2 linked regions of the Homo sapiens genome follow. The protein of the gene in region 1 purifies or fractionates together with the protein of each later gene. This does not show direct contact. Each region holds a gene or a part of one and is shown in the gene's direction. Other genes may lie near its edges.

Evidence for each region.
Region 2: the proteins of TICAM1 (region 1) and RIPK1 purify together in Homo sapiens (affinity purification with western blotting; 4 studies listed by BioGRID). This does not show direct contact.

What each region holds. Positions count from the first base shown.
Region 1 is NC_000019.10:4,821,472-4,825,448, reverse strand, and holds part of TICAM1 (TIR domain-containing adapter molecule 1), read left to right. Parts: intron 1-3,977.
Region 2 is NC_000006.12:3,102,744-3,106,494, forward strand, and holds part of RIPK1 (receptor-interacting serine/threonine-protein kinase 1), read left to right. Parts: intron 1-1,481; coding exon 1,482-1,572; intron 1,573-2,678; exon of another isoform or gene 2,679-2,738; coding exon 2,739-3,308; exon of another isoform or gene 3,309-3,751. UniProt on the Homo sapiens protein: Serine-threonine kinase which is a key regulator of TNF-mediated apoptosis, necroptosis and inflammatory pathways.

The sequences.
Region 1 (3,977 bases):
AGGCAACATGGGGAGACCCAGTCTCTACAAAAATACAAAAATTAACGGGTACATATCCAGGTTTGTTATATAGCTAAATGGCATGTCACAGGGTTTGGTGTACAGATTATTCCATCACACAGGTAATAACTGTCGTACCTGATAGGTAGTTTTTTGTTGTTGTTGTTTTAAGACAGAGTCTCGCTCTGTCGCCCAGGGTGGAGTGCAGTGGCGCCATTTCAGTTCACTGCAACCTCTGCCGCCCGGGTTCCAGCAATTCTCCTCCCTCAGCCTCCCAAGCAGCTGGGATTACAGGCGCACACTGCCACACCCGGCTAATTTTTTGTATTTTAGTAGAAACGGGGTTTTACCATGTTGCGCAGGCTGGTCTCGAACTCCTGAGCTCAGGCAATCCACACACCTCGGCCTTCCAAAGTGCTAGGATTACAGGCGTGAGCCACCGCTCCCGACCCTCCTCTCCCTCCTCCTCACCACCACCCTTAAGCAGGCTCTGTTATTTTATTTTATTTTTTTTTGGAGACAGAGTCTTGCTCTGTCACCCAAGTTGGAGTGCAGTGGTGTGATCTCTGCTCACTCCAGCCTCGACTTCTTGGGTTCAGGTGATTCTCCCACCTCAGCCTCCCTAGTAGCTGGGACTACAGGCACCCGCCACCACACGTGGCTAATTTTTCTATTTTTAGTAGAGACGGGATTTCGCCATGTTGGCCAGGATGGTCTTGAACTCCTGACCTGAGGTGATCCACCTGCCTCGGCCTCCCAAAGTGCTGGGATTACAGGTGTGAGCCACTGTGCCTGGCCCTGTTGTTCCCTTCTTTGTGTCCTGCGGTGGCTCACGCCTGTAATCCCAACACTTTGGGAGGCCGAGGCAGGTGGGTCATCTGAGGTCAGGGGTTCCAGACCAGCCCGACCAATATGAGGCAACCCCATCTCTACTAAAAATACAAAAATTAGCCGGGCATAGTGGTGCGAACCTGTAATCCCAGCTACTCAGGAGGCTGAGGCAGGAGAATCTCTTCAACCCAGGAGGCGGAGGTTGCAGTGAGCTGAGATTGCGTCACTGCACTCCGGCCTGGATGACAGAGCGAGACTCTGTCTCCAAAAAAAAAAAAAAAAAAAAAATTGGATAAAAGTTAAAATTCAAGCCAGGCATGGTGGCTCATACCTGTAATCCCAGCACTTTGGGAGGCTGAGGCAGGCAGATAGCTTGAGGTCAGGAGTTCAAGACCAGCCTGGCCAACATGGCAAAACCCTGTCTCTACTAAAAATACAAAAATTAGCTGGGCGTGGTGGCATGTGCCTGTGATCCCAGCTACTGGGGAGGCTGAGGCACGAGAATAACTTGAACCCAGGAGAGGGGGGTGGCAGTGAGCTAAGATCGCACCACTGCACTCCAGCTTGGGCGACAGAGCAAGACTTCATCCTAAAAAAAAAAAAAATTAAAATTCAGTGTCTCTTTACTACCACAGCCACATTTCAGGTGCCCAGTAGACACAGGTAGCTGGGGGCTGCCATACTGGACAACACAGACAGAGAGTGTTGAGGCTGATCTAGACTGCAAGTATCTGCAGTGTATTAGCTACTGTGGCTGTGGTAATAAAGTGCCCCAGCCCGGATGGCTTAAGCAACAGAAATTTATTCTCTCACAGTTATGGAGGCTGGAAGTCCAAGATCGAGGTGTTGTAGGGTTGGTTCCCTCTGAGGACTCTCCTTAGCTTGCAGACGGCCGCCTTCTCCCTGGGTCTCCTCACATCATCTTCCTTCTGTGCAGTTACGTGTCTGTATCTGAATGCCCCCTGCCTTTTCCTTTTTTGATGCAGGTTCTTGCTCTGTTACCCAGGCTGGAGTGCAGTGGCGAGATCTTAGCTTGCTTGCTGCAGCCTCAACCTCCCAGGCTCAACCAATCCTCCCACCTCAGCCTCCTGAGTAGCTGGGATTTCAGGCGCATGCCACCATGCCTGGCTAATTTTTTTTTTTTTTTTTTTTTAAGACAGAGTCTTGCTCTGTCACCCAGGCTGGAGTGCAGTGGCGCTATCTTGGCTCAATGTAAGCTCCGCCTCCCAGGTTCACGCCATTCTCCTGCCTCAGCCTCCCGAGTAGCTGGGACTACAGGCGCCCGCCACCATGCCTGGATAATTTTTGCATTTTTAGTAGAGATGGAGTTTCGCCATGTTAGCCAGGCTGGTCTCGTACTCCTGACCTTAGGTGATCTGCCCACCTCGGCCTCCCAAAGTGCTGGGATTACAGGCGTGAGCCACTGCGCCTGGCCATGCCTGGGTAATTTTTGTATATTTAGTGAAGACGGGATTTCACCATGTTGGCCAGGCTGGTCTCGAGCTCTTGATCTCAAGTGATCAGCTCACCTCCACCTCCCAAATTGCTGGGATTACAGGCATGAGCCGTCAGGCCCGGCCAAATAAAAATACTTTCAACATCAAAAACAAACAAACAAAAACACCAAAGCCAAATACAAACCAAAAAAAGGCCTTTTCTCTAAATAAAGTCACATTCTGAGCTACTGGAGGTTGGCACTTCAACATATGATTTTGGGGAGAGACACGATTGAACCCATAATAGCCAGTCATACCCCATACTAATTAAAAGGCATTTGGTGTTACAGTTACAAACATTGGCATCAAATGGCTGCTCTGTCAGTCACTAGCTGTGTGATCTTGGTCATGTTTGCCCCTCTGTGGAATGGAAAATAAAAAAAATCACATGCCTGTCTCATAACCCAGGTGTCTACAAGCTTTTTCTGTCAAGGGTCAGAGAGTGAATATTTTCCACTTTGTAGACCCCATGGTCTCTGTTGTAGCTACTCCATCACTCTAGTGGGAAAGCAGCCATCGATGTGTGTAAATGAGTGAGGATGTCTGTGTTGCAATAAAACTTTATTTATAAAAGCAATTGGCTGGGTGTAGTGGCTCACACCTATAATCCCAGCACTTTGGGAGGCCAAGGTGGGCGGATCACACAAGGTCAGGAGTTCGAGACCAGCCTGGCCAATATGGTGAAACCCCGTCTCTATAAAAAGTACAAAAATTAGCTGGGCGTGGTGGCGGGTGCCTGTGGTCCCAGCTACTCGGGAGGCTGAAGCAGGAGAATCGCTTGAACCTGGGAGGTGGAGGTTGCAGTGAGCCAAGATCATGCCACTGCACTGCAGCCTGGGCGACAGAGCGAGACTCTGTGTCAAAACAAGACAAAACTAAAAAACAATTGGCCGGCACAGTGGCTCACGCTTGTAATCCCAGCACTTTGGGAGGCAGAGGCAGGCGGATCACCTGAGGTCGGGAGTTCAAGACCAGCCTGGCCAACACGGAGAAACCCCGTCTCTACTAAAAATACAAAATTAGCCGGGCATGGTGGCGCACGCCTGTAATCTCAGCTACTCGGGAGGCTGAAGCAGGAGAATTGCTTGAATCCGGGAGGTGGAGGTTACGGTGAGCTGAGATTGCACCATTGTACTCCAGCCTGGGCAACAAGAGTGAAACTCTGTCTCAAAAAAAAAGGCTGGACGGGGTGGCTCATGCCTGTAATCCCAACACTTTGGGAGGCCGAGACAGGCAGATCACCTGAGGTTGGGAGTTCAAGACCAGCCTGACCAACATGGAGAAACCCCGTCTCTACTAAAAATACAAAATTAACCAGGCATGGTGGTGCATGCCTGTAATCCCAGCTACTTGGGAGGATGAGGCAGAAGAATCGCTAGAACCCGGGAGGCGGAGGTTGCGGTGAGCCGAGATCGTGCCATTGCACTCCAGCCTGGGCAACAAGAGTGAGACTCTGTCTCAAAAAAAAAAAAAAAAATCGTGGGCCATATTTTGTGGCCCCTGTCAAAGGGAGATCTGCACGGTGGGATCAGGACAGGCTTAACCAAAAACATGAAGGAGGGTAAGGGAGTGAGCCATAGGGATATCTGGGGGGTAACAGAGATATAGGCAGAGGGAACAGCCAGTGCAAAGGTCCTGAGGCAGGACTGT
Region 2 (3,751 bases), on another chromosome or scaffold:
GCATACACCACCACGCCCGGCTAGTTTTTTGTATTTTTAGTAGAGATGGGGTGGTTTCACCATGTTGTCCAGGCTGGTCTCAAACTCCTAACCTCAGGTGATCTGAGGTCCCAAAGTGCTGGGATTACAGGCGTGAGCTCCCATGCCCGGCCATGTTTAACTTTTAAGTACTGTTAAAATTGTTTTACATGGTAGCTACACCATTTTATATTCCCCACCAGCAATGCACAAGGATTCTAATTTCTCCACCATCTTACCAACACTTTTTATTTACCATTTTTATATTATAGTCACTCTAAGGAGTGTGAAAGTGTACCTCATGGTGGTTTTGACTTGCATTTCCCTATGACTCATGATGTTGAGCATCTTCATGGCTTATTGGCCATTTGTATATCTTCTATGGAGAAACTGCTATTCAAGTTCTTTGCCCATTTTTGAATTGGGTTGTTTGTTTTTTGTTGTTGAGTTGTAGGATTTTTTTTTTTTATGTTCTGGATTTCATCCGTTTTCAGATATATATTGTTTGCAACTTTTTCCCCATTATTTTATTTTATTTATTTATTTTTTTTTTGGAGACAGAATCTTGCTCTGTCGCCACCCAGACTGGAGTGCAGTGGCAGAATGTTGGTTCACTGCAACCTCTGCCTCCCAGGTTCAAGAGATAACTCCTGCCTCAGCCTCCCGAGTAGCTAGGACTACAGGCACACACCATCATGCCTGGTTAGTTTTTGTATTTTTAGTAGAGACAAGGTTTCACCATGTTGGCCTGGCAGGTCTCGAACTCCTGACCTCATGGGATCCACCTGCCTTGGCCTCCCAAAGTATTTTTTCCTTATTCTGTAGGTTATCTTTTTACTCTTTTCATAGTATCCTTTGATGCACAGAAGCTTTTAATTCTGATGTATTATTTTTACTCTTTACTTTTGTTTGTGCTTTTGTGTCATAACCAAGAAATCGCTGCCAAGTCCAATGTCATGAAGCTTTTTCCCTGTGTTTTCTTCTAAGAATTTTTGTGGCACTAGCCCTTAAATTAAGTCTTTGATCCATTGTGAGTTAATTTTTATATGGTATGAAATAAGGGTCCAACTTCATTATTTCATATGTGTATATTCAGTTTTCCCCCATCGAATGCTCTTGGCAACCTTGTCAAAAATCAATTGGCCATTTATAGGAGGGTTTATTCCTAGGCTTTCCATTCTGCCCCACTGGCATATGTGCCTGTCTTTATGCCAGTCCTACGCTGTTTTGAATACTGTAGCTTTGTAGTAAGTTTTGAAATCAGGAAGTGTGAGTCCTACAACCTTGTTCTTTTTAAAGATCATTTTGGCTATTTGGGAAAAACATTAATTTTAAAAAATTACTACTTGTAAGATCTGTGTGAAATTTCTACCTTCTGAAAATATGAATTCTTCTCGTTAAAATTTTCTGGGACTCTATTTCCTGCTGTTCACTAAAGTGTGTATTTATGCTCTTAATTATAGAAAGAGTATTCAAACGAAAATGCAGTTGTGAAGAGAATGCAGTCTCTTCAACTTGATTGTGTGGCAGTACCTTCAAGCCGGTCAAATTCAGGTAAATTACACTATGGTCAAAATCTATTCATTTATTTGTTTGGTTACTCATTCACTCCACTCTCTAAAAGACTATTCAGGACCATATGGGAAACAGAAGAAACTATAAAAGTGAACACCTGCCTTACAGGAATTTATAATAATATTCGAGAGTCAAGTTACATGTATTTGAAATATGAAGTAACAGTGTGCTCACCAGTCATAGAGTGTTCTGAACAAAAGGCCTAATATATCTGATGGGGAGAAGTGACAGTTCAGAAGAAGGAAGGGGACATATGTGAGAGCAAAGTCCCTGAGGAGCTCGGAGTGACTTACAGCCAGGGTACAAGCAGAGAGGCTGGTCTCAGGTCAAGTAGGGATACTTTTTTCACTGTAACAAAAGGGATGGCAGAGTATAGGATACTGAAGCCGCTTAGCTACCTGATCTGTGGCTAATTACTTAACCTCTTCTAAACTTCACTCATCAAATCATAATTGCTCCTCCTCTCATAGGGCTCTTCAAGAATGAAAGAATTCATGGGACATGCTTAGGACAGAGCTGCTGCAGATCTTTTTTTTTTGGAGACAGAGTCTGTCACCCCGGCTGGAGTGCAGTAGTGTGATCTTGGCTCACTACAACCTCCGCCTTTCAGGTTCAAGCGATTCTTCTGCCTCAGCCTCCCAAGCAGCAGGGATTACAGGCATGCACCACCATGCCCGGCTAATTTTTGTATTTTCAGTAGAGATGGGGTTTCGCCATGTTGGCCAGGCTGGTCTCGAACTCCTGACCTCAGGTGATCCGTCCGCCTCAGCCTCCCAACGTGCTAGGATTACAGGCGTGAGCCACCGCACCCAGCCACAGATCTTATTTTCCACCTGAATTGCTCCAAGGAGACAACCACCTTCTCTGCTCCAAACCAAGTCCCTTTTTTCCTTGATCATCCCTGCAACAGCCGCTTTTCTCTTGCTTGCTATAATTTTCCTAGTACTCTCTTACTGCCAGCGAGGAGCTCCTATTATTATTTGTAAAGCTTGTGGGAAGAGGACCATCTCCTAAATGCTTTGGACTGGTCTCGTACTTGTTTTCTGTGTGTTACTTTGAGATACAGATTCATGACGGCGCTCAGATTTTATTTTACTTTTTAATGTTTCATGACACCCATTCTAATGTTGATCATTTCTTCTCAGCCACAGAACAGCCTGGTTCACTGCACAGTTCCCAGGGACTTGGGATGGGTCCTGTGGAGGAGTCCTGGTTTGCTCCTTCCCTGGAGCACCCACAAGAAGAGAATGAGCCCAGCCTGCAGAGTAAACTCCAAGACGAAGCCAACTACCATCTTTATGGCAGCCGCATGGACAGGCAGACGAAACAGCAGCCCAGACAGAATGTGGCTTACAACAGAGAGGAGGAAAGGAGACGCAGGGTCTCCCATGACCCTTTTGCACAGCAAAGACCTTACGAGAATTTTCAGAATACAGAGGGAAAAGGCACTGCTTATTCCAGTGCAGCCAGTCATGGTAATGCAGTGCACCAGCCCTCAGGGCTCACCAGCCAACCTCAAGTACTGTATCAGAACAATGGATTATATAGCTCACATGGCTTTGGAACAAGACCACTGGATCCAGGAACAGCAGGTCCCAGAGTTTGGTACAGGCCAATTCCAAGTCATATGCCTAGTCTGCATAATATCCCAGTGCCTGAGACCAACTATCTAGGAAATACACCCACCATGCCATTCAGCTCCTTGCCACCAACAGGTAAATGGGTCTTCGATAGTCACAAGCTTGTCTTTTTTTATTTTTCAGAAAATACAGCAACCAAGCAGCTCTATTATAGATTGTGGGTTATAATGGGGACAGAGGGCATCATCAGCTGCCAGATGCAAATTGCCCCTGTGGAATGGACCCTGCCAAACCACTTGGTCTGGGAGTATTTCATCTGGGGCTAGGATTCATCACAGATGCCCGCAAGCATCGGGTTACAGGTCCTTGTGACTGGCAGGCATCTTTGACTCTAACCTGGAGTGCATAGTAGTCCTATTTCACCCAATCTCTGATAAATGGGAAGTTATCTGCTTATTTGCTTTTACCTTGCTTGCTACTTTTTGAAGGTAAGAAATCAGTCTTGGATATTTTTGTTTCTGACCTTATATAGCTCAAAGACTACCATTAGTGATGAAAAATTTTCTTTTAACTCCCAT